Homo sapiens: one gene and its partners. The protein of the gene in region 2 interacts with the protein of the main gene of each other region in a pairwise test. Each region holds a gene or a part of one and is shown on either strand. Other genes may lie near its edges. The genes, in order: RIMBP3, SAXO4, TFG and KRTAP19-5.

Evidence for each region.
Region 1: the proteins of SAXO4 (region 2) and RIMBP3 interact in binary tests that used the Homo sapiens proteins (3 or more experiments, as listed by UniProt).
Region 3: the proteins of SAXO4 (region 2) and TFG interact in binary tests that used the Homo sapiens proteins (3 or more experiments, as listed by UniProt).
Region 4: the proteins of SAXO4 (region 2) and KRTAP19-5 interact in binary tests that used the Homo sapiens proteins (3 or more experiments, as listed by UniProt).

What each region holds. Positions count from the first base shown.
Region 1 is NC_000022.11:18,608,664-18,617,147, reverse strand, and holds the start of RIMBP3 (RIMS-binding protein 3A), read left to right. Parts: upstream 1-5,228; 5' UTR 5,229-5,713; coding exon 5,714-8,484. UniProt on the Homo sapiens protein: Probable component of the manchette, a microtubule-based structure which plays a key role in sperm head morphogenesis during late stages of sperm development.
Region 2 is NC_000011.10:61,476,500-61,484,548, reverse strand, and holds the start of SAXO4 (stabilizer of axonemal microtubules 4), read right to left. Parts: upstream 3,430-8,049; 5' UTR 3,333-3,429; intron 2,768-3,332; 5' UTR 2,740-2,767; coding exon 2,631-2,739; intron 2,239-2,630; coding exon 2,121-2,238; intron 1,895-2,120; coding exon 1,741-1,894; intron 1-1,740.
Region 3 is NC_000003.12:100,726,112-100,734,090, reverse strand, and holds part of TFG (protein TFG), read right to left. Parts: intron 5,380-7,979; coding exon 5,233-5,379; intron 1,584-5,232; coding exon 1,419-1,583; intron 1-1,418. UniProt on the Homo sapiens protein: Plays a role in the normal dynamic function of the endoplasmic reticulum (ER) and its associated microtubules. Required for secretory cargo traffic from the endoplasmic reticulum to the Golgi apparatus.
Region 4 is NC_000021.9:30,500,375-30,506,433, forward strand, and holds KRTAP19-5 (keratin-associated protein 19-5), read right to left. Parts: upstream 1,768-6,059; 5' UTR 1,717-1,767; coding exon 1,498-1,716; 3' UTR 1,283-1,497; downstream 1-1,282. UniProt on the Homo sapiens protein: In the hair cortex, hair keratin intermediate filaments are embedded in an interfilamentous matrix, consisting of hair keratin-associated proteins (KRTAP), which are essential for the formation of a rigid and resistant hair shaft through their extensive disulfide bond cross-linking with abundant cysteine residues of hair keratins.

The DNA of each region.
Region 1 (8,484 bases), on a different chromosome or scaffold from region 2:
GGGGCACTGTCTCTCCCCATCCGCTTCCTGCATACCTCCTCCCAAAAGGCCTATGGTATTTCTGTTTTATTTATTTTTATTATTATTATTGTTTTTATTTTGGGGGGGTGGGTTTTTTGTTTTTTTGGTTGTTTGAAACAGGGACTGGCTCTCTCGTCCAGGTGGAAGTGGAGTGGCACAATCTCAGTCCACTGTAACCTCTGCCTCCCAGGCTCAAGGTATCCTTCCATCTCAGCCTCCCAAATAGCTGGGACTACAGGCGTGCACCACCATGCCAGGCTAAATTTTGTAATTTTTTTATAGAGATGCAGCCTTGCCGTGTTGTCTAGGCTGGTCTTGAACTCCTGAGCTCAAGTGATCTGCCCGTCTCAGCCTCCCATAGTGGTGGGATTACAGGCATGAGCCGTCACATCTGGCCTGTTGTTAATTTTTTTTCTTTTTTTTTTGACTCAGACTCTCACTCTGTTGCCCAGGCTGGAGTACAATGGCGTGATCTCAGCTCACTGCAACCTCCACCTCCTGGGTTCAAGCAATTCTCCTGCCTCGGCCTCCCGAGTAGCTGGGATTACAGGCACCTGCCACCATGCCCAGCTAATTTTTGTATTTTTAGTAGAGACAGGGTTTCACCATGTTGGCCAGGCTGGTCTTGAACTCCTGATCTCAAGTGATCCACCCACCTTGGCCTCCTAAAGTGCTGGGATTACAGGCATGAGTCACGGCGCCCAGCCTACAAAAAAAAAAATTTTTTTTTTTTTTGAGATGGAGTCTTGCACTGTCACCCAGGCTAGAGTGCAATGGCATGATCTTGGCTCACTGCAACCTCTGCCTCGCGGGTTCAAGCGATTCTCCTGCCTCAGCCTCCCGAGAAGCTGAGTCTACAGGCGCCTGCCACCACACCCAGCTAATTTTTTGTATTTTTAGTAGAGATGGGGTTTCACTATATTGGTCAGGCTGGTCTTGAACTGCCCAAAGTGCTGGGATTACAGGCGTGAGCCACTGCGCCCAGCCAGCACAGGAGTTTTGACCTGCTCCTTTTCGTTTTCCTTTTTCTTTCTTTCTTTTTTTTTTTTTTTTTTTTTTGAGATGGAATCTCACTCTATCGCCCAGGCTGGAGTGCAGTGGTGCAATCTCAGCTTGCTGCAACCTCCACCTCCCAGATTCAAGCAATTCTCCTGCCTCAGCCTGCCGCGTAGCTGGGATTAGGCATGCATGCGCCACAATGCCTAGCTAATTTTTGCATTTTTAGTAGAGACGGGTTTTCACCATGTTAGCCAGGCGGGTCCCGAACTCCTGACCTCAGGTGACCTGCCCACCTTGGCCTCCCAAAGTGCTGGGATTACAGGCATGAGCCACCGAGCCCGGCCAACCTGCTCCTTTTCTAACCTGGGCCAGTTCACCTCTCCTTAGACAAGCTGGTGGTTTCCTGCTCCCAGGAAGTCACCAATTTATGCCAAGTTTAGTGCAGACACCCCATCAGTATAGTACATTACAATCCAGAAGTCCTGGATCCAAGCAAGCCTCCTGCCTCAGCCTCCCAAGTAGCTGGGAGTATAGGTGTGTGCCCAGCAGTTCTATATTTCCAAGGAACCCTGGAGCCCTAAAGAACCCAGTTTGAAACCACCACTTTCAGGCTGGGCATGGTGGCTCATGCCTGTAATCCCAGCACTTTGGGAGGCTGAGGCCTGTGGATCACTTGAGGTCAGGAGTTCAAGACCAGCCTGGCCAACATGGCGAAACCTTGTCTCTACTAAAACTATGAAAATCAGCTAGGCATGGTGGCAGGTGTTTGTAATCCCAGCTATTTGAGAGGCTGAGGCAGGAGAATCACGTGAACCCAGGAGGTGAAGATTGCAGTGAGCCGAGATCATGCCACTGCACTCCAGCCTGGGTGACAGAGTGAGACTCCATCTCAAAGAAAAAAAAAAGAAACCATCTCTTTCATTTAATAGGTGAGAAAGTTGAACCTGGAGAAGGCAGCAGCATGGTGAGCTCATGCAGGGACTCCTGCCTCCCTGCAACTCATTCTCATATGTCTTGGGCACCAGTGATGTGCTAAGTCACATGCACGGATGCAATAGGGACAAGGGAAAACATGGCTTCTGCTCTCCCCAAGATCAGAGTTGATGGGGGTGACAGGCAGGTCACTGGACAATCACTGCACAACATGATGAGAACAGGGATGGCAGAAACCCAGCCCTGGGGAAGCCTGGCTTTGCTCATCCACTCAACCAACATTCCCGAATGCTTTTGACATACTTTGGGGCAGCTGCTGGATGGTAACTGTGGGGTTCCCAGAGACCCATCCACCCCAGTGTCCTTTTTCTTGGTGACAGCCTACTCTCTTTTTTTAATTTTAATTTTAATTTTTATTTTTGAGATGGAGTCTCGCTCTGTCGCCCAGGCTGGAGTGCAGTGGCGGGATCTCGGCCCACTGCAAGCTCCACCTCCTGAGTTCATGTCATTCTCCTGCCTCGGCCTCCCAAATAAGTGAGACTACAGGTGCCCGCCACCACGCCTGGCTAATGGCTAATTTTTTGTATTTTTAGTAGAGACGGGGTTTCACCATGTTAGCCAGGATGGACTCTATCTCCTGACCTCGTGATACGCCTGCCTTGGCCTCCCAAAGTGCTGGGATTACAGGAGTGAGCCACCGCACCAGGCTTTTTTTTTTTTTTTTTTTTTTTGAGACAGTCTTGCTCTGTTGCCCAGGCTGGAGTGCAGTGGTGCCATCACAGCTCACTGCGACTTTGACCTCACCTTGCAGGCTCAAGCAATCATTTCATCTCAGCTGGAAATGCAGACTGGGTCTCGCTCACTCTGTTGCCCAGGCTAGTCTCAAACTCCCGGGCTTAAGTGACCCTCCCATCTCAGCCTCCTGGGTAGCTGGCACTACAGGCATGCACCAGCACGCCCAGCTAAAATTTTTTTTGTAGAGACAGGGTCTCTCTATGATGCTCAGGCAGGTCTTGAGTTCCTGGGCTCAAGTGATCCTCCCACCCTGGTCACCCAAAGGGCTGGGATTACAGGTCTGTGCCACCATGCCCGGCCCAGCCTGCCCTCCTGACCTGACAGTTGAGGCCCTACTGGAGACTGCAGCAGGGCATCCAGGCTGTGAAACCCCACCCACCAGCTCTGCCTCAGTTGCCCATGTGCCCTGGCAAGCCAGTGGCTCTCACTGAGCCTCAGGTTCTCTTCCGTAAAACAGGGCTGTGATGAAGATTCTCTCAAGATAGTCCTCCCTGTGGCTACCATGCCCAGGAGCCCAGCACCAGTTCAAGGCTAAGGCCATCCCTGCATCTCACCTCCCCTTCCTCTCACATACACACTACATCTGCCTCACCTCTCATAAAGAACATCTGGGCTGGGCACGGTGGCTCACGCCTGTAATCCCACCATTTTGGGAGGCCAAAGTGGGCGGATCACAAGGTCAGGAGATCGAAATCATCCTGGCCAACATGATGAAACCCTGTCTCTATTAAAAATACAAAAATTAGCTGGGCGTGGTGGCGCATGCCTGTAATCCCAGCTACTCAGGAGGCTGAGGCAGGAGAATCACTTGAACGAGGGAGTTGGAGGTTGCAGTGAGCCGAAATCGTGCCACTGCATGCCAGCCTGGTGACAGAGCAAAACTCTGTCTCACAAATAAAATAAAATAAAATAAAATAAAATAAAATAAAATAAAATAAAGGGCCATGCGCCGTGACTCACGCCTGTAATCCCAGCACTTTGTGAGGCTGAGGCGGGCAGATCACAAGGTCAGGAGATCGAGACCATCTCTACTGAAAATACAAAAAAAATTAGCCAGGCATGGTGGCGGGCACCTGTAGTCCCAGCTACTTGAGAGGCTGAGGCAGGAGAATGGCGTGAACTCAGGAGGCGGAGCTTGCAGTGAGCAGAGATTGCGCCACTGCATTCCAGCCTGGGCGACAGAGCGAGACTCCATCTCAAAAAAAAAAAAAAAAAAAAGAACATCTGGAGCCATAATTCCCGATGTTCTTGTTACTTGACACTGCCTAAAGGCATGTTCTGTGGGTTCCGGGGAAACTGATTTGAAAAACTTGAGTGTTGTAAAGGAGGGCCATAAGCTGAGTGAACACAGCAGTTGTGAGAGGTCCCAGGTGCTTCCTGGGGACAGGGAGACACGACAGACCAAGAAGCAAAGGGGCCTCTGATGTGACTTCAATATCAAGGTCTTGTCGGGCACAGTGGCTCATGCCTGTAATCGCAGCACTTTAAGAGGCCGAGGCGGGTGGATCACTTGAGGTCAGAAGTTCAAGACCATCCTGGCCAACATACTGAAACCCTGTCTCTACTAAAAAGTACAAAAAATTAGCTGGGCATGGTGGCTCAAGCCTGTAATCCCAGCTACTTGGGAGGCTGAGGCAGGAGAATCTCTTGAACGTGGAAGGTAGAGGTTGCAATGAGCCAAGATTGCGCCACTGCACTCCAGCCTGGCGACAGAGTGGGGCCCCATCTCAAAAAAAAAAAAATCAATGTCTCGATGCAGACTGCCAGGTATCAGGTGTCCATCCATGTCTCCCAAAAGCCACTTGGCACCAGGAGCAGACAGGAAGGGCAAAGAGGAGCCAGACTGAAGCAGGGCTTCTTAGCTCCCAAGCCACACAGGTGGCCACCAGTCAGAGAGGCAGTGTGTGTGTGTGTGTGTGTGTGTGTGTGTATTTCTTCAGTTCAGTGTGTGTATGTATGTTTCTTCTGCAGCTCAGTGTATGTGTGTATTCCTTCAGCTCAGTATGTGTGTGTGTGTATGTTTCTTCTGCAGCTGTGTGTGTGTGTGTGTGTGTGTGTGTGTGTGTGTGTGTGTTTCTTCTGCAGCTCAGGATGCCTCCAACATTTCTGCTGAAGCCTCACCCTCACTCCTGGCCCATCCTGAGGCCTCTACCTAAGATGCCAATGAGTAGCCCAGACACTGGGGCTCCAGTGTTTGTCACCAGGTGGTACCTGGATGTGGGAGGTAGACAGGCCAGATGGCCAGTTTGGGCAGTGCCCCTCATGCCTATCTGGCCCTGGGTCCCTATGCCACCTTGCTGGGGAGGGTCTTTTCGCTTACACCTCCTCTGAGCCGACTCTGCGCAGTAACACAAATGTGTATCAGGCACATCCTTTCCTCAAAAGGTGGATGACCAGTTGGGTGATCAGGGCTGTTAGGGGGCTGAAGGGTCCTGGGGAGTCCAGGTCTAGCCAAGTTGAGGCCTATCCTGCTGCATTTTCCAGCCACCTGACCCAAATACACCACCTGAACCCACGACCAGGTATGCCCACACCCCATGGGTGGCCTTAACACACACACCCTGCCCCTTTCTCCAAGTACAGGAGCAGCAGCCCAGACTTCCCTCGGGGCACCGCGGCCTGCTTGGGACTGCACAGTGCCTGGGAGGGTGCCTGGGGAGGGTCACAAGGGACTTGGTGCTAGAAGCAGGAAAAGTGTAGGGACCGGAAAAGCCCCCGTGCATCCTGGAAGGGACATGGGCCAGTTTGAGCAGGGGTGTGGGAGTCCAGCCCTGGCCTTGCCAGGTGGAGAGGCGCCTGGGCCAGACATCCGCGGCAGGAGGCGGGGGAACATGCCAAGAGGCGGAAGGGGCACGCGGAGACCCCCAGGGGGCGCCGGAAGGGGCGCGCCGGGCGGTCGGCGGCGGCCGTTGGCGAGCTGAGGCCTGCCAGGCGAAGTCTGGAGACCAGCCGGGCCGCGGCCGCAATGGCCAAGGACTCGCCCAGCCCCTTGGGCGCGTCGCCCAAGAAGCCGGGCTGCTCCAGCCCGGCGGCGGCAGTGCTGGAGAACCAGAGGCGGGAGCTGGAGAAGCTACGGGCGGAGCTGGAGGCGGAGCGGGCAGGCTGGCGGGCGGAACGGCGGCGCTTCGCTGCCCGGGAGCGCCAGCTGCGTGAGGAGGCCGAGCGGGAGCGGCGACAGCTGGCTGACCGTCTGCGCTCCAAGTGGGAGGCACAGCGCAGCCGGGAGTTGCGGCAGCTGCAAGAGGAGATGCAGCGGGAACGCGAGGCCGAGATCCGGCAGCTGCTGCGCTGGAAGGAGGCCGAGCAGCGGCAGCTGCAGCAGCTGCTGCACCGGGAGCGCGATGGCGTGGTGCGCCAAGCCCGGGAGCTGCAGCGCCAGCTGGCCGAGGAGCTGGTGAACCGCGGCCACTGTAGCCGCCCGGGGGCGTCCGAGGTTTCCGCGGCGCAGTGCCGCTGTCGCCTGCAGGAAGTGTTGGCGCAGCTTCGCTGGCAGACTGACGGCGAGCAGGCGGCGCGCATCCGCTATCTGCAGGCGGCGCTGGAGGTGGAGCGCCAGCTCTTCCTCAAGTACATCCTGGCGCACTTCCGCGGGCACCCGGCTTTGTCGGGATCACCGGACCCCCAAGCTGTGCATTCCTTGGAAGAACCGCTGCCCCAGACCTCCAGCGGCTCTTGCCACGCCCCCAAACCCGCCTGCCAACTCGGATCTCTAGACAGCCTGAGTGCTGAAGTCGGTGTGCGCTCCCGCTCGCTAGGCCTGGTGTCCTCTGCGTGCTCCAGCTCCCCAGACGGCCTGCTCTCCACGCACGCCAGCTCCCTTGATTGCTTCGCACCTGCGTGTTCCCGCTCGCTTGACAGCACCCGGAGCCTCCCCAAGGCCTCCAAATCCGAGGAGCGGCCCTCCTCACCAGACACCTCCACCCCTGGCTCCCGGAGGCTCTCGCCGCCACCATCGCCACTCCCGCCGCCACCACCACCGTCAGCCCACAGGAAACTCAGCAACCCGCGGGGAGGAGAAGGCTCTGAGAGCCAGCCCTGCGAAGTCCTGACTCCCTCACCCCCGGGCCTGGGCCACCACGAGCTGATAAAGCTGAACTGGCTGCTGGCCAAGGCGTTGTGGGTGCTGGCGCGCCGCTGTTATACCCTGCAAGCGGAGAACAAGCAGCTGCGGCGTGCAGGCTGCCCCTACCAGGCAGACGAGAAGGTGAAGCGGCTCAAGGTAAAGCGCGCGGAGCTGACCGGGCTCGCGCGGCGCCTAGCTGACCGCGCCCGCAAGCTGCAGGAGACCAACCTCCGGGCCGTGAGCGCGCCTATACCCGGCGAGAGTTGCGCCGGCCTGGAGCTGTGCCAAGTCTTTGCCCGCCAGCGCGCTCGGGACCTGTCGGAGCAGGCGAGCGCGCCGCTGGCCAAGGACAAGCAGATCGAAGAGCTGCGGCAGGAGTGCCACCTCCTGCAGGCGCGTGTCGCCTCGGGTCCCTGCAGCGACCTGCATACTGGAAGGGGCGGCCCCTGCACCCAGTGGCTCAACGTCAGAGACTTAGACCGCCTGCAGCGCGAGTCCCAGCGGGAAGTGCTGCGCCTGCAGAGGCAGTTGATGCTTCAGCAGGGCAACGGTGGCGCTTGGCCCGAGGCGGGCGGCCAGAGCGCAACCTGCGAGGAGGTGCGACGGCAGATGCTGGCGCTGGAGCGCGAGCTGGACCAGCGGCGGCGCGAGTGCCAGGAGCTGGGCGCGCAGGCGGCCCCGGCGCGGCGACGTGGCGAGGAGGCCGAGACACAGCTGCAGGCGGCGCTGCTCAAAAACGCCTGGCTGGCGGAGGAGAATGGGCGGCTGCAGGCCAAGACCGACTGGGTGCGGAAGGTGGAGGCTGAGAATAGCGAAGTGCGCGGCCACCTGGGCCGCGCGTGTCAAGAGCGCGATGCCTCCGGCTTGATCGCCGAACAGCTGCTGCAGCAGGCGGCGCGCGGGCAGGACAGGCAGCAGCAGCTGCAACGCGACCCGCAGAAGGCCCTGTGTGACCTCCATCCTTCCTGGAAGGAGATACAGGCGCTCCAGTGTCGGCCTGGTCACCCTCCTGAACAGCCCTGGGAGACCAGTCAAATGCCGGAGTCCCAAGTTAAAGGTAGCAGAAGGCCCAAGTTCCACGCACGGCCTGAAGACTACGCAGTGTCACAGCCCAACAGAGACATACAGGAGAAAAGGGAAGCCTCCCTCGAGGAGAGCCCAGTTGCCCTTGGGGAGTCAGCCAGTGTCCCCCAAGTTTCAGAGACAGTCCCTGCCAGCCAACCTCTGTCCAAGAAAACCAGCTCCCAGTCAAACTCCTCCTCTGAGGGGTCGATGTGGGCCACCGTGCCGTCCTCCCCTACTCTGGACAGGGACACAGCCAGTGAGGTGGATGACCTGGAGCCTGACAGCGTGTCCCTGGCCCTGGAAATGGGGGGCTCGGCGGCTCCTGCTGCCCCCAAGCTCAAGATCTTCATGGCTCAGTATAACTACAACCCATTTGAGGGGCCCAATGATCACCCTGAGGGTGAGCTGCCCCTCACAGCTGGGGACTACATATATATCTTCGGGGACATGGATGAGGATGGCTTCTATGAGGGGGAGCTTGAGGATGGCCGGCGGGGGCTGGTGCCCTCCAACTTCGTGGAGCAGATTCCGGACAGCTACATCCCAGGCTGCCTGCCTGCCAAATCCCCTGATCTTGGCCCCAGTCAACTCCCAGCGGGGCAGGATGA
Region 2 (8,049 bases):
TCTCTGCTTAGAGCCCTGCAGCCTTCCCATCACACTCGCAGGGAATTCCACGTCCTCCTGGTGGCCTGCAAGGACCTGAGTGCCTCACCCTGCTCTAGCTGCTTGTCTCCTTTCTGTTCCCACCTTGAGGCCTTTGCACTTGCTGTTGGCACTGCCTGGACCACTCCTCCCTCAGACAGCTGCAACTGGAGGAGCTGGCCTCCCTCAAGTTTTTGTCCAGTGTCTCCATAGCAAGCTCTTTCCCGACCCTCCCGATTTGCAGTTGCAACTCCTTCGCTTCTAATTTATTTATTACTTACATTTTTTGAGACAGAGTCTCGCTCTGTTGCCCAGGCTGGAGTGCAGTGGCATGATCTCAGCTTCCTGCAAACTCCACCTCCTGAGTTCAATCAATTCTTGTGCCTCAGCCTCCCAAGTAGCTGGGACTACAGATGCAAGCCACCACACCTGGCTATTTTTTTTTTGTATTTTTTTGGTAGAGATGGGGTTTCACCATGATGGCCAGGCTGACCCAACAGCAGTTGGCCTCAAGTGATCCACCTGACTCAGCCTCCCAAAGTGCTGGGATTACAGGTGTGAGCCACCACGCCTGGCTTTATTTTTTTTTAGTCCAAGTCTCATTCTATTGCCCAGGCAATCTCAGCCTCACTGCAACCTCCGCCTCCCGAGTTCAAGCAATTCTCCTGCCTCAGCCTTCTGAGTAGCTGGGATTATAGGTGCGTGCCACCATGCCCAGCTAGTTTTTGTATTTTTAGTAGAGATGGAGTTTCACCATGTTGGCCAGACTGGTCTCAAACTCCTGACCTCAAGTGATCTGCCTGCTTCAGCTTCCCAAAGTGCTGGGATTACAGGTGTGAGCCATCGCACCTGGCCTCCAACTCCTTCACTTCTCTTCCTCCCTGCTTCTCCCTGTTGTATTTCCTAACCCCCGCCCCACCCCGCACTCCACCCGCTCTTATCATCTTCAAATATGAAGGAGATATTCAGAACATTCTCGCTGGATGAATGAATGAGTGTCCATTTTGGTGGTGGTGCTGATGATAAGAAGGGTGGTAATAATGAGGATAGAAATGAAAAAGATGGGGCTGGGCGCAGTGGCTCACGCCTGTAATCCCAGCACTTTGGGAGGCTGAGGCGGGCAGATCACGAGGTCAGGAGATTGAGACTATCCTGGCTAACACGGTGAAACCCTGTCTGTACTAAAAATACAAAATATTAGCCGGGTGTGGTGGCACATGCCTGTAATCCCAGCTACTGGGGAGGCTGAGGCAGGAGAATCGCTTGAACCCAGGAGGTGGAGGTTGCAGTGAGCCGAGATCGTGCCACTGCACTCCAGCCTGGGCAACAGAGTGAGACTCCATCTCAAAAAAAAAAAAAAAAAAAAGAAAAAGAAATGAAAAAGATGGGGTGAGGATGTCCATGGTGGGGGGACAGTGGTGGTAGTAGGGACAGTGATGGGGCTTGCAGGTGTGGACGGGAGTGTGAGGCTCATGGGAATGGGGACAGGGATGGGGATGGAAATGGAGGTGGAGGTAATGGTGGGGCTGGGGCAGGGAATAGAGGTGGTGGGGATGGTGGGGACAAGGATGAGGACAAAGGGGAGAAAGATGAGTGGACCCCATCCCTACAAGGTGGCTGCTCCATGCCCTGTCACCTCCACCTTGACCAACTGTTGGCAGTGCAGCCCTAGCCCCACCCCACCCTGAGGCTTCCCTCTCCTGGCCCTGGCCCAGCACTGACCTCCTTGGTGGGGGGACCCGCACTGGGCTTCTCCCGCCCATAGCCTGAGCTGGTCTGGCGCATGCTCCAGGGCAGGGGATGCTTGCCGTCAGGCACCTCCAGGGGGCGGTAGCTCTGGCTGGCCACAGACTGGAAATGGTCCTGGGCTTGTTCCCTGAGGGTGAGGAGGAGCTAGAACCCCAGGCCGCCTGCCTCTGTCCTCTGCTAAGGAGCTTCCCTCCTCCCTGCACCCTCCCACAGATGGCTCAGAGGTCCGCTGTGCCCTGAGTCACCCAGGACCCCCAGCCTAGGGCAGGCAAAGCTCAGGGTCCCCATCCAAGGAACCTGGAGTTGGTCTGATGAGCAGGGCAGGGGCTGGGAAGGGGCCATACAGACCGTACCCCCTGGCCGGGTTGTCTAAGGCCTCCAGACTGGCTTGGCATGAGACCACGGGCTGGAAATTTGATTTGTAGCCGGTGCCTACGTGACTGCCCACACGGGGCTTGAAATCCTCCCGACCTGCCAGAGGGGTAACGGGGAGACAGACCCCAAGGTCAAAAACAGGCAGGGCTTCCCAGGCAGGGCCAGCGTCCTCCGAGGGGCACAGGGGTCACAGTGACAGGGGAGGGCTCAGAGCCACGGGCAGGAGCTTTGCAAGCCTGCCCTTTCAGGACTGTGATGGCAGGAAATGGAGTGGGTGGGCTGGGGACAAGGTCAGTGTGGCAGAATCACAGTGACAGAATTGCAGGGACAGAACCAGAGAAGGGAGCAGCCGGGCAGGGCCCAGGGGACAAACGGATTCAGCAGTTGCTCTGCAGTGTGACAGCCAGAGGGTCTGCTCCTCCCTCAGAGAGAGCCCCTCCCTTCCTGCCCATGTCCTAGCAGAGGCTCCTGCGCAAAGGCACCCTCACCGTAGGCGGTGCAGTAGCTGGTGGCGTAGAATTTCAGGGGGTCCGTGTAGCCCCCCGAACTCATCTTCACATAAGGGGAGACGACCCCCAGGGGGAGTTTCCCCATCATGATGCTGTGGGGCAGGGCCCCAGGGGGCCTAGAAAGGAAGCACGGGGAGCCTCATGGGTCCCAAGCCTGGCTCGGAAGCCCACAGGGGCGAAGATCTGCCCCCCACCACCCACAACGCAGCTGGCCCCTTCTCCCAGGCCTCTGTCTCTCTGCCCCAGCTCCCAAGTCCCTAAACTAAGGACGAAACCGATCATCCACACTTATCCCAAGAGTCCTCATGTCTCCTCTCACTTTCCCACACCTTCTTATTAACTCTTCCTGTCCCCATTTACCACTGGGACAGTGAGGTTCCAAGTGATAAAGGATTTGCTCCATAATAGGTGGTAGTGCTGGGATTCAGACCTAGGTGTTTGACTACTCGGCCCCTGACCTGAACCTTACATACCCACCTCTCGGAATGAATGAGCCGACAACCCACTACCTGGGGAATTCTTGGCCCCCACCCAAGAAGTCAGGCCGAGGCGCTCACTCCCAGCCCCCGGCTCCTCTCTCTCCCTCATCTCCATGGCCTTGCCCGCCTCTGGCCTTGCCTGCCTCCCCTGGGAATTGGCTGCACTCTCCCCGAGGCCCAACCACAGCGGCCCCACCCTCACCTTTCCTCTGCAGAGGCTCTGAGGTCGGGGAGAGGCTGCAGGAAGCAGAGCTCTGCAGAGAAGCCAGCCCTCCTGGAGGAGGCCAAGCAGGAGAAACAATGTGTAGCCTAGCAACTGGTGCCTAGCAACAGCGTCCCCAGGCTTCTGAGACCTTCTAGGGCCAGGGCCCACTGAGGGGCTGACCTGGCCAGGAGGGGAGGGTCAGAAGCTGCCCGAGCAAGGCCCTGCTTCCAGGGCTCCGGCCCCAACCTCCGGCCTCCTCCACAGGGCTGGGAAGAGTTGCTGTCTGCGTGACATAAAATAAAAGATAATCCCGAACACTCACTCCCATAAAGTACCCACTTCTCGGCAGATACTTTACATCCTCTATCTCCATCCTCTGAGCAGCTCTTCAGTAGCTATGATTATCCCCATTTTCACTGGGGGAACATGAGGCTTAGATAAGCAAAATGACTTGACTCCAGAGATCTCGCAATCAGAAAATAGCCAAGTTGAGATTCAAACGTGGGTGGATGTGGATCCCGCTCTTCTGCCTCTCGGTAAATCAACATTTACTATGTTCCTCTGGAGCTGAATCTGTGCTAAGCCCTTTAACACACATTACGTCGTGTAATCCCCCAAACCACCCTGTGAACTGGGCACTATTATTGTAGGGCCAATAAACCGCAGCAGTTAAGAGTGTGGTTCAAATCTGATCTGTCACCTTTGATGAGGTACTTATCCTCTTCACGCCCCCAAATCCCCATCTTCGCAAGGGACGTGACTGCACCCACCTCACAGGGCTGCTGGCAGATTTAGCAAGAGCATGGATTCAGCACCTGACAGGTAGTAAATGCTCTTTTTTTTTTTTAAGAGAGACAGGATCTTATGCTCTCACCTGGGTTGGAGTACAGAGGTACCATCATAGCTCAGTCCAGCCTCCAACTCCTAAGTTCAAGCAATCCTCTTGCCTCAGACTCTCAAGTAGCCAGAACTACAGGTGTGCTCCCCCCTGCCTGACTTGCTTATTTATGTATTTATTTGTTGTAGAGACAGCGTCTTGCTATGTTGCTCAGGCTGGTCTTGAACTCCTGGCCTCAAGTGATCCTCCTGCCTCAGCCTCCTGAGTTGCTGGGATTGCAGGGGCAAGCCACCACACTCGGCAAATGCTCAATTTGCAAAAGCTGCTGTACTTTTAGTCTTATTTTGCAGATAGGAAAGGCGAGGCTCAAGGGGAAATAGCCCAGGCCCCACAGTGGGTGGAGACGGAGCCTGGACTCAAATCTGAGTGCGCAAACTCCACAGTGAGAATCTTCTTCCATGACAGCCTTTTTGCCTCAAATTGGCTTTCAGGCTTGTAAATGTTGTAACAGTTAGATCTCTGGGTGGGGTGGGATAGCCCTACTTTGCAGCATTTGCCAATTTCTGTGATGTCAGTGGTCCCATCAGGGCTGCTTTCAAACCACCACTACAGTGTCTTTGAACCGGGACATGGGAAGGTCGCTCACCACTGTACGGGAGTAGTCCCATCATGCAGACATAATGGGCGTAAGTAACCTCGACAGCACAAATAATAGAAAAATGTACTCACATAATTAAGGGGTGATGAGTTTTAGGTATTTTTTTTTGTTTTTAATATAATTCATTAAATTGCAGGTTTAAGTTATTTATTTATTTATTTATTTATTTATTTATTTATTTATTTATTTGAGATGGAGTCTTGCTCTGTCCCCCAGGCTGGAGTGCAGTGGCACGATCTCAGCTCACTGCAACCTCCATCTCCTGGTTCAAGCAATTCTCCTGCCTCAGCCTCCTGAGTAGCTGGGATTACAGGTGCACGCCACCACGCCCAGCTAATTTTTGTATTTTTAGTAGAGATGGGGTTTCACTATGTTGGCCAGGTTGGTCTCGACCTCCTGAGCTCAAGTGATCTGCCTGCCTCAGCCTCCCAAAGTGCTGGGATTACAGGCGTCAGCCACCGCGCTCGGCCAGTAATTTAATTTTTAACAATGGCAGAGTTAAAAACCAGCTTGCCAATTTCCTGGAAGTTTCGCCTTCAGCTCTCCTGAGCCGGTAGAGCTGGCTTCAGAGCACCCCTGCTCTCAGGGGAGAGTGAGGTATGAATGAAGGCTGAATAAAGGGAAAGGAGGCATCTCCTTTCCTCACCCAGGAGATGCCCTTGCCGCATTCATCCTGTAGTGACCTGGCCTGCCAGGGTGGAGGCTCACTCGTGTCCTCACCCAGCCCCCCATGGGAAGGCAAGCTGAAGCACGTTTGGCACCCACCCTCCGGACTAACGATTCTGTTCAGGGATCACAGGGCACAAGGACACAGGAGTGAGTGCACACAGCCCTGCCCTCCAGCAAAGTGCTCCCATTCTACTACAGAGGCTCGTGGGAGTTCCACACACGAAGCACAAAGGGTGAGACCACCATAGGTGAGGTGCTCACAGGGTGAAGGGAGAGAGGGGCCCTCCTCTAAGTGTGCCTGGATAAGTGGCTACGAGCAAGAGCTTGGACTCTGAAGCCAGATGGTGTGGGTCCTGTCTCTGCCACTAGATAACCGTAAGACAGTGCATGTTCCTTGTGCCTCAGTTTCCCCTTCTGGAGAATGAGTATAATAATGGTAACTACCTGCAGGGTTGTGGTACGCACGAAGCATTTAGCCCAGTACCTGGCACACGGTAGGTGCCATCTAAGAGCTAGGGAAAGAGGTTCCTTTTGAGTACTCACTGCCTGCTAGGCAAAGGGTTGGGCCTAAGGGTTACAAACAGGAAATCCACATGGCCCTGGCCTCAGAGAGCCCACGGTTTAGGAAGGATCTCAGATGTAGCAAAAGAAAGCTCACTGTGGGAGCCCGAGTTCAAAACCTGCTTCTGCTGTGTGTGACTCGGGGCTTCCTCTCTTTGAGCCTGTTTCTGTACCTGCAGGCAGGGATAACTGTGCCTACCTAGCAGGGTCGCTGGTGGATTTGAAATACCCTATGCACAAGAGGTAACAGGCCTGCACCAGGCAGAGATAAGGAAGGGCCCTCTACGTGGAAAGCCCGACAAACACAAAGGCGGAGACAGGTGTCCAGCAGGCTGGGAGCCCTGACTAGTGCAGCGTGGCTGGAGCACTGCGTGGGGAGGAGAGGCTCAGCTGGGAGAAGCAGCCCCCAGGTAGGCTGTAGCCAGGTTTTCCTTTTAGCAGGTGGAGGGGGCAAGGAGGGGTGGTAGAAAGGTTTGAAATCATCCCTTAGGGCTTCTCTTAGGGAGGCTCTAGGCTGTAGCCGACCAAGGACCTGGGCAGGAGTTCAAGGGTCGGGGATCAGGGTCTGGCCGGCGCTGTCCCATCAGAGCCCCCATTAGGTCCCGTCCTCCCGGCGGCCCGTGGGTTTTTTGCTGTGTGGCGACACCCAGCGGCCATAACTCGGAACTGCAGGAGATGCCGCAGATGAATCCCTAAGACCGGGGTCGGGGGGTCCTAGGAGTTGGGGACAGAGCAGCTCCGTCGACCTGGCCACAGCCCCACCCCAAGCCTCACTCACCCATCCCTCCAGAACAGGAGGGTTGCGTCTGGGCAAGGAGTGTTCCGGGAGGGCAAGCGCTGGAGCCCACAAGGAGCGGGAGCCCAGGTGCCAGGTGACCCAAGAGCAGCGTGACTTTTGGACCTGTCACCTGTGGACCTCAGTCCTTCTATCTACAAAATGAAGGAACAGACTAAAAGTCCTTCCATACTGGAAAATCTAGGCCCACCTCATCCCACTCCCTTCCCATATCTGTCCCCATTTATTCAGCACTTTATTGTGCCAGAGCTGAGCTACGAATCACCTCATCATCGCTTTTCACTCCCGGCTCTACGTGGGAACTACTATAATCCTGCCCATGTTACATGTGAGGAAACTGCCTGAGGCCTCGCAGACAGGGAGGAGTGGAGCTGGGATCCAAACTCAGCTTTGACCCTGGAATCTATGCCCCGCCCTCTGGAACACACCAGCAAATTCTCCAGAAAGCGCCGGGACCTTAGCACTGGGCTTTTCCAAAGGGATGATTTTCCAAAGGGATGGGCTGCCCTGGCCAGATGGGCAACTGCCTCCTACTTTCTAGCTCTGCCCAGTCCTGGGCAGTAAGATTCCCGTTTCCAGCCGGGCACAGTGGCTCATGCCTGTAATCCCAGCACTTTGGGAGGCCAAAGCAGGCAGATCACCTGAAGTCAGGAGTTCGAGATCAGCCTGGCCAACATGGCAAAACCCCGTCTCTACTAAAAATACAAAAATTAGCAAGGCATGGTGGTGGGCGCCTGTAATCCCAGCTACTCGGGAGGCTGAGGCAGGGAGAACTCCTTGAATGCAGGAGTAAGAGGTTGCAGTGAGCCGAGATTACACCACTGCACTCCAGCCTGGGCGACAGAGCAAGACTCCATCTCAGAAAAAAAAAAAAAAGATTCCCCTGTTTCCCTCCCATACGAAGGCAGAGGCTACAGACACACTAGGTTAGCAGAGAGGACCCAGTGAGAGGACATGCTGGGTCTCAGCCCATAGAGTTCCTTGGCTGGGATCAGTGGGGTAGGCCCTAACAGGCTCCCGAGGCCAGAGCACACCACCACTGAGTGCTGAGTCCTGAGCAGAGACAGACATCTGCGCTCTGTGCTGGGCCATGTGGGCTGCAGTTCCCTAAAAGAGGATTAACTGAAGTGAATGAGCCACACACCACCAAGTGTGTGTCATTTTGCTTTGGTTGATGTGGGTCTTTATAGCC
Region 3 (7,979 bases), on a different chromosome or scaffold from region 2:
CATCACAACTTTGCAAAAAAAAAAGCAAAAAAAAAAACTTCTGTGACTGTGAGGACATCTGCCCAGAAACTGCCTGTCCAACCTCAGACTGGCATCACTCTTGCTAATGATCTTTGTAGCCAACAATAATTATTTCAAAACAATTATATATTCTCCTCATTTTTTCCTTTAAAAACCTTTGTCTGCCTTTACCTCACTGAATATGCACATAGTTTACTATGGCATGCATATTTTCAATGCAATGCTCTATTCCCAAATACCTTTTTCTTTTAGAGAGCGCTTTTCTGTTTGTTATTTATGTTAAGTCCATACAAATCAACTCCCTGCTAGATCAACAATAACAGAAAATCCTCAAAAGAATATAAGTCCAAGTCACTACAACATATTAACCAGAATGTCTAGTTTTCAACCAAACACTATCAGACAGGCAAAGAAACAGAAAAATGTGACCCTACTGGAGTTGGGGGGAGTGTGTGTGGGGGAGAGGAACCCAGTCAATAGAAACTGACTCCAAATGGGTCCAAGTGTTACATATTGCAGATAAACATTTTAAAGCAGCTAAATATTTTTAAAGAATCAAACATAAATACATTCAAACAATTAAAGGAAAATATAGACTTAATGAATGTAAAATAAAGAATCTCAACAGAAAAACAGAAACTATAAAAACCCAATGGAAATTCTAGAGCTGAAAGCACAATTAAACAATTCACTAGAAAGGTTCCACAGCATATTAGAAATCACAGCGACCTTGAAGAGTTCAACAGAAATCACCCAACCTGAAGAACAGAGAGAAGACTGAAGAAAAATGAACCTTAATGACCCATGAGACAGTATCAAGCTCTCCAATGTATGTGTTATTAGAATCCGAAAAGAGAAAAAGCAGGAAAAAATAATGAAGAAATTATAACCAAAAGTTAAACAGAATAAAACAATATAGGTACTGCTTTAAGGTTAAAAACTTATTTATATAAAAACCCACTGTATACTCAAGCAATTTAACAAGAAAATCTACATTTAATTTTCAATTTCTCTAAGATGAGGAGATAAGACAAATCAAATATAATTCGAATACTGCAACTAATCAAATTATAAAATAGTTCAGATTTTTAAAAACTTTCTAAATTTTACTTTCAAAAATTTACTTGAACCCAACAGTGCTTATTCTTTAAGGGGGAGGGTGCTACTCTTGGGGAGAGGACATAAGAAAGCTTTCTGAAGTGCTGGAAATCATCTACATCTTAATCTAGTTAGTCTTTTACATAAGTGTACACATATGTAAAAATTTGTTAAGCAGAACCCTTAAGATTTGTGCACTTCACCATATCCAAGTTATTCTTCAATTAAAGAAAGAAGGAAAGGGAAGAACGGAAAGATGAAGGAAACGAAGGGTGTAAAGGAGTTGGAAACCAACTTACCTGAAACCTGATCATCTGTTAAGCCAAACGCTGACATAACATTTTTATTGATTTCATCTTGGTTTTTTAAAGGATCAAAAGCAGACATACTTGCTGCCATAACCTGAGTAGACTGTTTTCCAGAAGAATCAGAAGCAGACTTTTCTTCCCTACCATCCACAGTATCTGTAAAAATAGAGGAATAAACAAAAACTTGTTTCCTTTTTATCTATATTCAGTAAGGCCTAAAAGTACAAGGGAAATAATGCAGGTGTATAATGATAGTCTGGAATGTTAAGCATGTCGGAATATAGGATTACAGATCATTTTAATTCCTTTATTTTTTTTATATTTTTCCTTCTAGTAACAGGGAGAAGAGGGCAAAAAGAAACAGAAGATGAACAAAAGCTTTCCAAAAAAATTATTTACCTCCTTTTGTAAGAAACATTAGATGAAAAAAATACAAGCTCCTTGATAAAGAGAAACATTTTACTTTTTTTGGTTTTTTTGGAGCCCAATAACCTATATCCTAGTATCAGATACCCACTGGGCACTCTGGAAATAATAATTATAGGAACTAAGGCTTTATTTTATAAAAAGAAACTGAACTAAGGTTATAATCTCAAATTTTACATTTTATTTCTACTGTCTACTGGTCCACTATTAAATTACATGGAAATCAAGCCAACCATAATTAATTCATAATCTTCCATAAATAGCACATTAAAAACATTTTTGAATTTGCTACCTTCTATTTTAATATGTATTACTTATTAAAATACTTATTAAAATGCTTACAGATGAAATGATGTATATGGGATCTGCATCAAAATAATACAGGAGGGGAGCCGGGTGCAACAGCTCATGCCTGTAATTCCAGCACTTTGAGAGGCCGAGGTGGGTAGATCACTTGAGGTCAGGAGCTCGAGACCAGCCTGGCAAAACCCAATCTCTACCAAAAATACAAAAATTAGCTAGGCACAGTGATGCATGCCTGTAATCCCAGCTACTCAGGAGGCTGAGTCACGAGAATCACTTGAACCCAGGAGGCAAAGTTTGTAGTGAGCTGAGATTGTACTCCACTCTGGGTAACAGGAGGGGCGGAAATGTGTATAGTGTAATTATATGATACTATAAGTTGGTAACTGTTGAAACTGGATGTGGGTTTCTGGGATTCATTATAATGTCTACTTTCTTATATACTTAAACTTTTCTATAATAAAATGTTTAAAACAACAACAGAAAAACAAAATGTCAAATATTATGAGCAGGTTAAATTTAAAATCATGCTTTTCTTCTCAGGATACTAAGATATTCCACAGGCATTTATACTACTGTCTTGTGAAAGAAAAAGAGTTCAAGAATTTTAACATACATTTTACAAATAGGAATCCAAGTCCAAGATACAAAAGACATCAAAAGAAACAAACAAAAAACACGAACAAGTAAACAAAAAGACTGTTGCTAACCATTTACTCAATTAAGGGACAATGATTATCACTTTTGTTACCAAGCAAGTAAATGAACATCAGTTCTTAGATCACCCCTGTAATCAATACAAAATGTATCTTCTGAAAAAAATGTTAAGTGCTAAACCGAATATAAGTACCCACAGCACACACTGGCTGGCAGCTCATTCATTCCTAACATACCATTCCAGGCTACCCTAATATTTTCTAAATGTTTGGAAAAAGAAAACTACTACTAGAAGTATTCCTTTAAAACATGTCTACCAGTTATCTATCTTCCCTACCAACTTCCTTCCTCTAATCCCAAGAGCATACCACGTCAGTCTTACAAGTTGTTTCCCCTCACATCTCACTACCTATGCCTCTTTTCACTTATCACAAACTAAAACCATCAGGAAACATACTATACGTCCTACTACTTGCTCCATTAGCTGCTGGAGATACTGCAACAGGTCAATCTTCTATCTAAGGTAGTTTACACATCATTTGCCTCTTAAAGGAAAACAAGCATCCAAGAACCGCTGTAATAGAGAGCTGAAGACCACAGGTGGCCACATTTCTTGGTGAGGGTAAGCCACAGGTTCTAAATAGCACTGATAGCTGATTGGCAATTTCATTTTGTGGACTAGATTTCAGTTTCTGATGTATGGTTTTCTTGTTGTTTTTGTTTTCTAAAAAAATAAGAACTATCTCTAAAAATATAATGCAGATTGTATTATTCTTATATCATCTTATCATCAGATATGTCAGACAGGACACAATAACTAGAAAATGGCCATACAAGAAAACAACATATGGCATGATTTCCAAAATGCAGAGAAGAAACCAATTTTAACACCTTTTACATTAACATAGGTAAAAAGCTAACAGTATGTATAAAAAATATAGACACAAAGAATAAAGTATAAACAGTAGCAAGAAAGAGGTGAGGAAAAAGTTTCACCTAAAGCAAAAAACTCATAAATCCATTCCTTAGAGTAGAATGTGGGCCACTGTAGCTAATTTCTGAACAGTATTGGCTATACTGGTTAAATTCTCATCTACACTTCTTAATATTCTGCAGATGGTTAAATCCCCTGAAATTATATGCAAATGTTGTGTCAGCATCTATGAATTCTTCTGGAAAAATTGTCTAACTTTTTCATTGATTCTTGATCTAAAATTGGAAATTTTTGTTTGGAGAGGTAGGGCTCAGAATAGGCAACCTTCTTTGACCTGAAATATAAAAGGTTTCATCATAAAGTGACCAAGAGGATCTCATTATAGTATTCAGCAAATCTCCATTATGTTCTGAAATAGAAGTGCAACTAGGAATAATCAATCACCAAATATTTATTAAACATCTATCATTAACATAATTCCATATGACTATTAGAAGACAGGAAGAGAGAAATGATGGAAAATACATCTTTATTTAAACTGTAACTAAAATAAAAATAGAAAACAAAAACTTCCAAAATATTTAGTGGCCAAAAATAGAATACATACCATTTATCCACAAAAATTATCTCATGTTAAGCCCTTTATATGCAGTCATCCAGTCTAGACTTTTTTTAAATTACTATTTCACAATATGGACAGTTTTAAACTATGAAAATTATAAGCAAACAAAGAATTTGTAAAAAGAAAAAAATAATAATAAGAGTTTTCTTTAAATGCAACATCTAAGAATCTTAAAAGAAGAAAGCAGTTTTTTAACTGTACTTTCAAGTCATTAACACATACTTAAAGTTCAGTCCACATTTTAAAATACATTCGGTCCCAAAATTATGTCAGTTCCAAATGTTGACACATTTTGCTTTATCTTAACACAAACAGTACATGTCATTATACAATGGGGAAAAAATTAGTTTTTCTTTAATTATTATTAAAAACTGTGTTTCAAATTTACAACATACCATTTTTAATGAACATTACTAATCTAAGTGATTTTTAGTTGAAAATACTTCCAACACTATGTAATTATTCATGAAATGATTTTCAATTCCCAAGGTTCATTACTTATCTATTATACTAAAAAGGGTTCATGTGTCAAAAGGATTTGAAAACTGACCTGTGTAACAAATCCAAAAGTCTAAGACTAGTTGCGAAAGAATCACCCAAAAAACACTTTAAAAATGGGATTTCCAGGTGCTACGCTCCAGTAGGTCTATGATGAGATCCAGAAATTGGTATAATGAAACCTCCTAGTAATTCTGATGAACAGCAAAGTTTAGGAACACAGACATAAATACTAGTAGAGAGGCAGAGGAAGAAACAAGAGTGACATTGGGGATGCCATCCTTCTCCTACTTAAAAAGAGTTTTTTAAAACCTCCAAAAAGACGTAAGAACAATAAGTCAGAATACAATGGATTCAGGGTTTACCATTTTCAGGAATATTGGTGGAAGGTCCTGGTTCTCCAGGTGGTTCCAAGCTATCCAATAAACGATTCACTTTATTTCGAAGTTCTATCAGTTCTCGACGGAGATATTTCACCTGACTTGATTCAAGGGGTCTTGGCTGGCCATTAACTGAAATAAAAACATTTATTTGCTTAAAATTAGAAGTTCATGAATAAGTATACTAATAATATGCAACAAGGAAAAATAAATACAATTCCTTTAAAAAAACAAAAACAAGATATCAATGTAATGGAGTAACTTTTTTTTTAAAAAAAAAGAATTCTCTATGGCTAATAACTTATTTTGGAAAAAAAGCAGAATTATCAGTCTTTCTTGATGCCATACCTATAGCCTATGACCTTACTGGTAAAAAGGTTTGGTAGGAAAATCCGAGCTCTACTTTTTAATAGAAATGATTAAATTTAATAAAAATCATAACTTCAAAAGCTCACTTTATTTCATGCTGTTCTTAAATATTTATTAAATTTAATAGAAATTATTAAATTTAATAAAAATTATATAACTTAAAAAGCTCATTTTATTTCACGCTATTCTTAAAATAATACAAAAATACCTTACTCTATACATGTTTAAAGATATAACATGACTGATAGGTCTGTTATCCCTCTTGCATAACTTTGTCTTGAAAAAAAACAGCTAACTAAAATAGCTGATCTTAAAAGAAATCGTTAAAAAAATATATGCAGGGCCAGGCATGGTGGCTCACACCTGTAATCCCACCACTTTGGGAAGCCAAGGAGGGAGAACTGCTTGAGCCCAGGAGTTCAAGAAAAACCTGAGCAATACAGTGAGACTTCATCTCTACAAAAACCTTAAAAAATTAGCCAAGTGTGGCAGCACATGCCTGCAGTCCCAGCTACTCAGGAGGCTGGGGTGGGAGGATTGCTTGATCCCGGGAGGGGAAGTCCAGTTGGCTGAGATCACTCCACTGCACTCCAGCCTGGATGACAGAGGGAGACCTTGTCTCAAAAAATTTTAAAAAATAAATATAAATTTAAAAATATATGCAGAACTTATCTACATCATGACTGTCCTTCAAAGCAGTTACTTCCAGAAACAGTATATAAGCCACAAAATGCCAGAGATTACTCGGTAATCTCTAGTTGTGATTTTTTAATGAAAGCAACATTACTTCACTTATTATTCATTTTGTCCAAATGATTTTCAGTTGACTGAAAAAAATGAAATCCTTCATTCAGCAACAAACACTGTCACCACTCAGGTTATTTTTAAAAAGAAAGTGACACAAGGCTCTGATTGCAAACCCCAAGACAGGCGTTCAAAAATTAAACTAAAATGCTTTGCACATTGCCAGTATACATACATACAAACTCCTGAAGCACCTAATTAGAAAAGGACATCTACGTGAAAATAAAAGTTCAGGGCGATTCTTTGTTAAACATGTTTCAAAATCAAACCACCAATTATAAGCTTTTAGAAGAAAACTCACAGTAATTCACATACTCCCTGCATAGCTATGAAGTTCAATACAATCTCCTACCTACATCAATTATTGGTTTTCACTTGGTATTACTGTTTTTTCTCCAATATTTGATGAGAAAAACAGCTCCTAGCAGCCAGAAACTGGTCTGGTACAGTAAGACAGGCCTTAGTGTTGCTGGAAGCTGGCCTGGCACTCACAGGTAGGCTGTGGTGTTCTCCCGTTGAATATAAATATTTCAAAGAACACCAACATCACACAAGACTATAATCTGTGATAGATCAACAGTCCATAACCATGTCAAAACTCCAGACAAAAACAAGAACACTGACCACACCAGAAAAATGACCAAACAACCTTTTATCCTGGCTAATATGAGTAACTGCTACTACTTTACCAACTGCAGCTTTAGCCTCAATTCATTCCTCTCACCTTCCAGATAAGATTTAGTAAGATTCATTCCTCTCACCTTCTAGATAAGATTTGATAAGATACCCAAACATAGAATCATCTCTACTTCCTGAGAGCATCCAATGCAGAGCAAAGCTCTACTTCCTTGAACCTTATCCAAAATCAGGTAACACAAACCCAAGCCCAAAAAAAAATACTTTTCTAACATACTTGTAAGACATCCTATTGTTCTCCGTGGTATTCATTCTCCCTTGCTGCAGTAAGTCAGTAAACCCAACTTCATTCAACTACAGGTGTGTTCCTGGTGGTCTTTGGAGCACACTGATACATCTTACCAGAACTTTTAAGAACCTTGCATTTACATTCCTAGTATGGCCTATAATCTGTTATTATCTACTCAGTGGGTTTAAGAGCACTAAGCTCCAAATTATACTCAATTAAAAGTTTAAATTAGCTAAGTTTAAATTAATTAAGTTAATATTAGGTGTCAGCTTGATTAGAGTGAGGAATGCCTAGATGGCTGGTAAAGTACTGTTTCTGGGTGTGTCTGTGAGGGTGTTGCCAGAGGACACTGACATTTGAGTCAGTGAACCAGAAGAGGAAGACCCATCTTCAGTGTTGGTGGGCACCACCCAATCAGCTGCCAGTGCAGCTATCACAAAACAGGCAGAAGAAGGTAGGATAAGTTTGCTTGCTGGGTCTTTAGCTCGCTCTCCCTCCTATGCCAGATGCTTGCTTCCACTCCTCCTGCCCTTGGACATCAGACTCCAGGTTTTTTGGCCTTTGGACTCCAGGGCTTGTACCAGCAGCTTCCCAGGGGACTCTCAGGCCTTTGGCAACAGACAAAGGCTGCACT
Region 4 (6,059 bases), on a different chromosome or scaffold from region 2:
ATAGAAAGTCACAAAAGGGCTGGGCGCGGTGGCTCACGCCTGTCAACCCAGCACTTTGGGAGGTTGAGGCGGGCGGTTCACCAGGTCAGGCGATCGAGACCATCCTGGCTAACATGGTGAAACCCCTTCTCTACTAAAAATACAAAAAATTGGCCAGGCGTGGTGGCGGGTGCCTGTAATCCCAGCTACTTGGGAGGCCTTGGCAGGAGAATGGCGTGAACCTGGGAGGTGGAGCTTGCAGTGAGCCGAGATTGCACCACTGCACTCCAGCCTGGGTGACAGAGCAAGACTCCATCTCAAAAAAAAAAAAAAGTCACAAAAATAAGTTCTTTTTCAGTGTATATTCAGATATATACTTTGTTTTATCAGCACTTTTCTTACCATTAAAGGGGCCATATAAACATACATTTTGAACAAACTATAGAAATACATACTCTTCATGTTGGTCTCCAGTTAAATGTGAAAGTTTATGAAGTTGGTATTTCAAGGCTGAATTTAAACACTAACATGATCTCACTGAAAGCATTGAAATGAAAAAGATATGGTGAATATGGCGCAGTGTTCCAAAGAAAAAGCCTTCTTTTTAATTGAGTGTTATGGTTTTCATTTGTGCATGTACAGTTTACCTTTGGACAACATGGGCTTGGACTGAGTGAATCCACTCATACTGAGATTTTGTTCTACCTCTGCCACTCCTGAGATAGCAAGACCATCGTCCCCGTTCCTCCTCCTCCTCAGCCTATTCAATGTGAAGACAATGAGGATAAAGACCTTTATGATGAGTCGCTTCCACTTAACAAACAGTAAATATAAATTCTCTTCCTTATTATTTTCATAACATTTTCTTTTCTCTTATTTACTTTATTGTAAGAATACAGTATATAATGCATATAAAACACAAAGTATGTGTTAATCAACTGTTTATGTTATCAGTGAGGCTTCCAGTCAACAGTCGGCTACCAGTAGTTAGGTTTCTGGAGAGTCAAAAGTTATATGTGGATTTTCAACTGCATGGGGGAATCAGTACTGCTAACCCCTACATTATTCAAGGGTCAACTGTGACCTTTGAATGTGAATATATACATGCACACACATACATACAGCTATATAGATAGGTGCATGTATATACAAAATTATTTTGTTATATATAATATACTTCTATATGTATAGTAGTTTGTTCTTTTTTCACTGGATATAATTACAAATAACCACTTTGCCATTTTGAGTCAAGCAAAAAACAAAAGTCGTGTATTTGCTTTCAGTTAGCATAATTTATTCTAAAAGGAACAGAGAAACCCCACAGTTATAAAGGTACAAGTAAGACACATCCAGAGACATAAAGCAAAGAATTATGGAATGATAGGTATTCTTAAACCTCTTAGATGCTAACTGCTCTTGATCTTGGCTTGATCCAGGGTGACCTCGTTTGTTTGTTATTGCAGTCAGGTTTGGGTGATCTTCTTATGTCCCCTCATGTTAGGTTGTCAGGGAAGGATTTCAATAAAATCCAGAGAATCCATATCCTCCATAGCATGATGGACGGCAGCTGCGGTATCCATAGCCTCCGAAGCCAGAGCCGTATCCGTAGCCTCCGTAGCCACCGCCATAGCCCAGTCTGCGGAAGCTGCCACATCCACAGCCATAGCCATAGCCCAGGTCATCGAAGCCTCCGTAGCCGTAGCCCAGGCCTCCATAGTAGTTGCCGTAGTAGTTCATGGTGTCAGGAGTGGTGAGTTGGTATGCTGCTCAAGGCAAGATCCTGAGTGTGAACACCAGCATGTGTAGGAGGCTTATATACCCTGGTCAGAGCGTGTGATGAGTCATCTGTATACCCTCCTTTGCTATAGTTATTTGTATTACGTTTGATGTTACAACTCATTTATCTATTGTCTTCTGATGTAGGGAGATGCCCTCATTCTCATTAAAATATTTCAGCTTACTTAATGTCTTATTCAGGACACGATTGAACTTACTGCTTTGCTTTTATGAAAAGAAAGGGCTTACTGTTCAAAATATGCACATTCCAAATGCTCAACAGAATTGCCTATTACCAGGTGTATTACATCATCTACACTTTATGGTATTCCTTTTATAATGAATAATTTCCTTTGTCCGTCATCTTCCAAACTGATAACTTCATATTCAACTAAATTTACAGCTGTTTTTTCAATTTACAGATGTTAAATCTATAGTTTTAAAAAGCAAACTTATTTATCAAGGTGAGGTCTTCAGAAAGTGCCTATATGCACAATACAGGAAAACATTTGAAATCAAAATGATTTTAATGCCCTGCTGTGTACAATCGCCAAAGGACTCAAAAAAAGAGAGTGTATGCTGATTTTTAGCATTTTATTCACAATAACTTTTATACTATTTTTGACTTTGCACACCAGCTTCAGAACCTTTTGGTTGCAAAATACATAAGAATTAATTTCAGAAATTGAGGGCACAAAATCCATCTCCTACGCAGACTTATCAGAGTAGCACTTTAGTTTTCCATTCAAGTCCTAAAACTCTCCTTTATAATTGGTTTTATTCAAAGTCCTGGTAAAATTGCAGATTGCATCTGCCTCTGTTTTGCACATTCTAGTCAATTACTTTCTTTCTTTATCATTTTTCAGTAGTGTATATATGACCTCTATTTCCTTTCTCATTTCAGCTTTTATTCTTCTTCCCATTTTCTTAATGTCTATAGAAACAGCCAGGTAGAAGTTTATTGCATACATTCCCTCTGTCTTCCATCGACTTATCTCAACGCTTTTTTTTTTCTATCTCCTCTTTGTATTCACTGTAACATCTTTCCTGATTTTTTTGTTTGTTTGTTTTTTGAGACGGAGTCTCACTCTGTCGCCCAGTCTGGAGTGCAGTGGCACCATCTCGGCTTACTACAAGCTCCGCCTCCCGGGTTCACGCCATTCTCCTGCCTCAACCTCCCCAGTAGCTGGGACTACAGGCGCCCGCCACCACGCCTGGCTATTTTTTTTGGATTTTTAGTACAGACGGGGTTTCACCATGTTAGCCAGAATGGTCTTGATCTCCTGATCTCGTGATCTGCCCGCCTCGGCCCCGCAAAGTGCTAGGATTACAGGCGTGATTCTGATGTTCTTCTATGTCTATCCTGTACTCATTTATTCTGAGGTAATTTCTAACCACTGCCTACTGATCTGTTAATAGTTCATTAAAATATCATTTTTAAAGCTTTCTATTTTTTGTACTTACTAAACATCCTCAACTCCCCACCCCAGCAAAAATACTTAGAAATAATGAATAAGACCTACTATTTGATAGCACAATAGAGTGACTATAGTCAATAACAACTTAATTGTACATTTTAAAATGTCTTGAGTAAAATTAGACTGTTTGTTAACTCAACAGATAAATACTTGAGGGGATGGGTTTTTTAAAATGTACTCCAACTCCTATGGCTTTCTGAAATTTAAAAGGTATCCTAAAATAGAAATTGTCTTCAAAGTTTTCAAAATAAAGGCACCATGGTGAAATGGCACAGAATAGAGAAACATATGTAAAGAAATTTGCCCTGGGCTTCATAGAGTTCCTCAGCTGACTTTGTTGAATTAGTGAAACAGATACAACATTGAGACCACTCTTGATTAATCTCCATGCAGCACCTGTCTCTTGGCTTCGACAACTAAAAATTCATTTAATTTACATGACTTTGAACATGCTGGTGAGTTTTTGTGAGATTTATAAGTATTTTATCAAACATAAATTTCCTAAAAGGAATGCTTCAGTTCTTCTAAGCAACAGACTAGGGAATTAAAAATTGTTTATTGAAGAAATTCTAAGTAAATTGACAGTAACTGCCACAGCAACCACAATCTGTGCACAACCCTGACTACGCCTTAGTGAGCTACCTTTTTAAGACAGAAAAATAGCTCAATAAGTCTTTCCATTTATAGAGTAGGATTTAATCCAATATTTGCTACATTTCTTTTATCCAAATATTGGTTCATTCTTATTTCTCATCTGAACTTGAAACAGTCAATAAGCTGAGTTCTCAGTGAGTCCTTTTGAAGCCATAAAATCACAAATAACTCAAAATCACAAATAACTATATTAAGGATACCACAGTTTGTCCATATAAATCAGCCTGATAATGTAAGAGTGTTTAATAGCTAATTTTTGTTTGGGATGCATAAACAATGCATACATCTGAGATATAAAACCAAACAAGATATAAATGGAAAACCTCAATAGCCAAATAAGAATTAGAATGTTTTAAAGAAATAGACTATGTGATAATTTTCCACAAGACCAATTAATGATCGTAAGCAGTAAATGATTAATACTAAAATAAAATATATAAATCTACATATTTTATATACAAAATATATAGAACAAATATTTTGTCCTTTTTTCGAAGTGAACAAATAGTAAAATGAAAGCATCCATTGTAAAATGAAGACATATATTCATTTGTAGTGATATTGGTTTTATGCTGAAAGAGATTGTTAGACTCAAAGTCGATTAGACCCAAAGTTGATAGAACAATGATGTTTTATATTTTCTCCTTCTTTTCACTTTTAGGAAGTTTACTTTGGAATATATGCTTAATAACTTTATGATAATGGATAAGGAAGAAGAAAATATGTTCTTACTTGGGATAAGTAGTAACTTTTACCTGGAAAGAAAGAAAGCTTTTGTTATAAATTCCAAAGACTTCGTTTAACTCAGACACAAACTAATAATATATAAAAATGTAAGTTACAAAAATATGTTAATATTGAATTATACCAGCAATGCCACAAGTGCTTTTTCTCATTATAATTATACTGATCTTTCTTTTAATTGCAAATTTTTAATACTTTTACTCAGGCTGGGAGGATATTTACCTGTATGAGAATAGAGCAGTTTCATCTGAAATTCAGTTATAGGGTCAAAATTCCTTTAATGAAATTACCAAAATTTATCTACCTTGCCCTCCCCTGTGAAGGTACAGCATCTAAAGAGAGAAATAACAAGATTTGTCTGAGTTGTTTGTTCATATTTCATCTTTACATTGCATAAACAAACCCAAGTATTTCTCATAAAAATAAATAATCTTGAGAATTGAGCTTATTTGTTCTGTTTTTGCCTTCAAGTAAAGCTAAGTTAGCAATTCAGAAATGTATTATATATAACAAAATAAAAGTTAACAAGAAAAATTTTAAAAACAACAGCAACAAAACATAGTTAATCTAAGAGATGAAATTAGTCTCCATATACTCTGCTCCAAAATTGAAACCATCCACAGTATTATTACAAGAACTTTCCAGATGGCATTCAGATTTGGAATTATGCAGTGAAAGAGACTCAGAATGATGGACTAGAGCATTAGGTTCAGGTGAACTGCTTTCTGGTCTTGATTCTGACACTTAGATTTTAACTCTAGGCATCACTTAACTGTTCGGCATTTCCTCACCTGTACTATAGGGGGCAGCACGGTACAATCTGTAATAATCTAACGTTTGGTCCAGCTCTCACTTCTTTTGTCCTTGTATTATTGAATTTCCCCAGGAAGGGGTCCAGTTTCAGTTTCTGCAAATGGCTAGCCAGTTTTCCAAGCATCATTTATTAAATAGGGAATCCTTTCCCCATTGCTTGTTTTTGTCAGGTTTGTTGAAGATCAGATGGTTGTAGATGTGTGGTGTTATTTCTGAGGTCTGGGTTTTGTTCTATTAGTGTGTATATCTGTTTTGGTACCAGTACCATGCTATTTTGGTTGCTGTAGCCTTGTAGTATAGTTTAAAGTCAGGTAGCGTGATGTCTCCAGCTTTGTTCTTTTTGCTTAGGATTGTCTTAGCTATGCAGGCTCATTTCTGGTTCCATATGAAGCTTAAAGTAGTTTTTTCCAATTCTGCTGAGAAAGTCAATGGTAGCTTGATGGGAATAGCATTGAATCTATAAGTTACTTTGGGCAGTATGGCTATTTTCATGATATTGATACTTCCTATCATGAGCATGGAATGTTTTTCCATTTCTTTGTGTCCTCTCTTGTTTCCTTGAGTACTGGTTTGTAGTTTTCCTTGAAGAGGTCCTTCACGTCCCTTGTAAGTTGT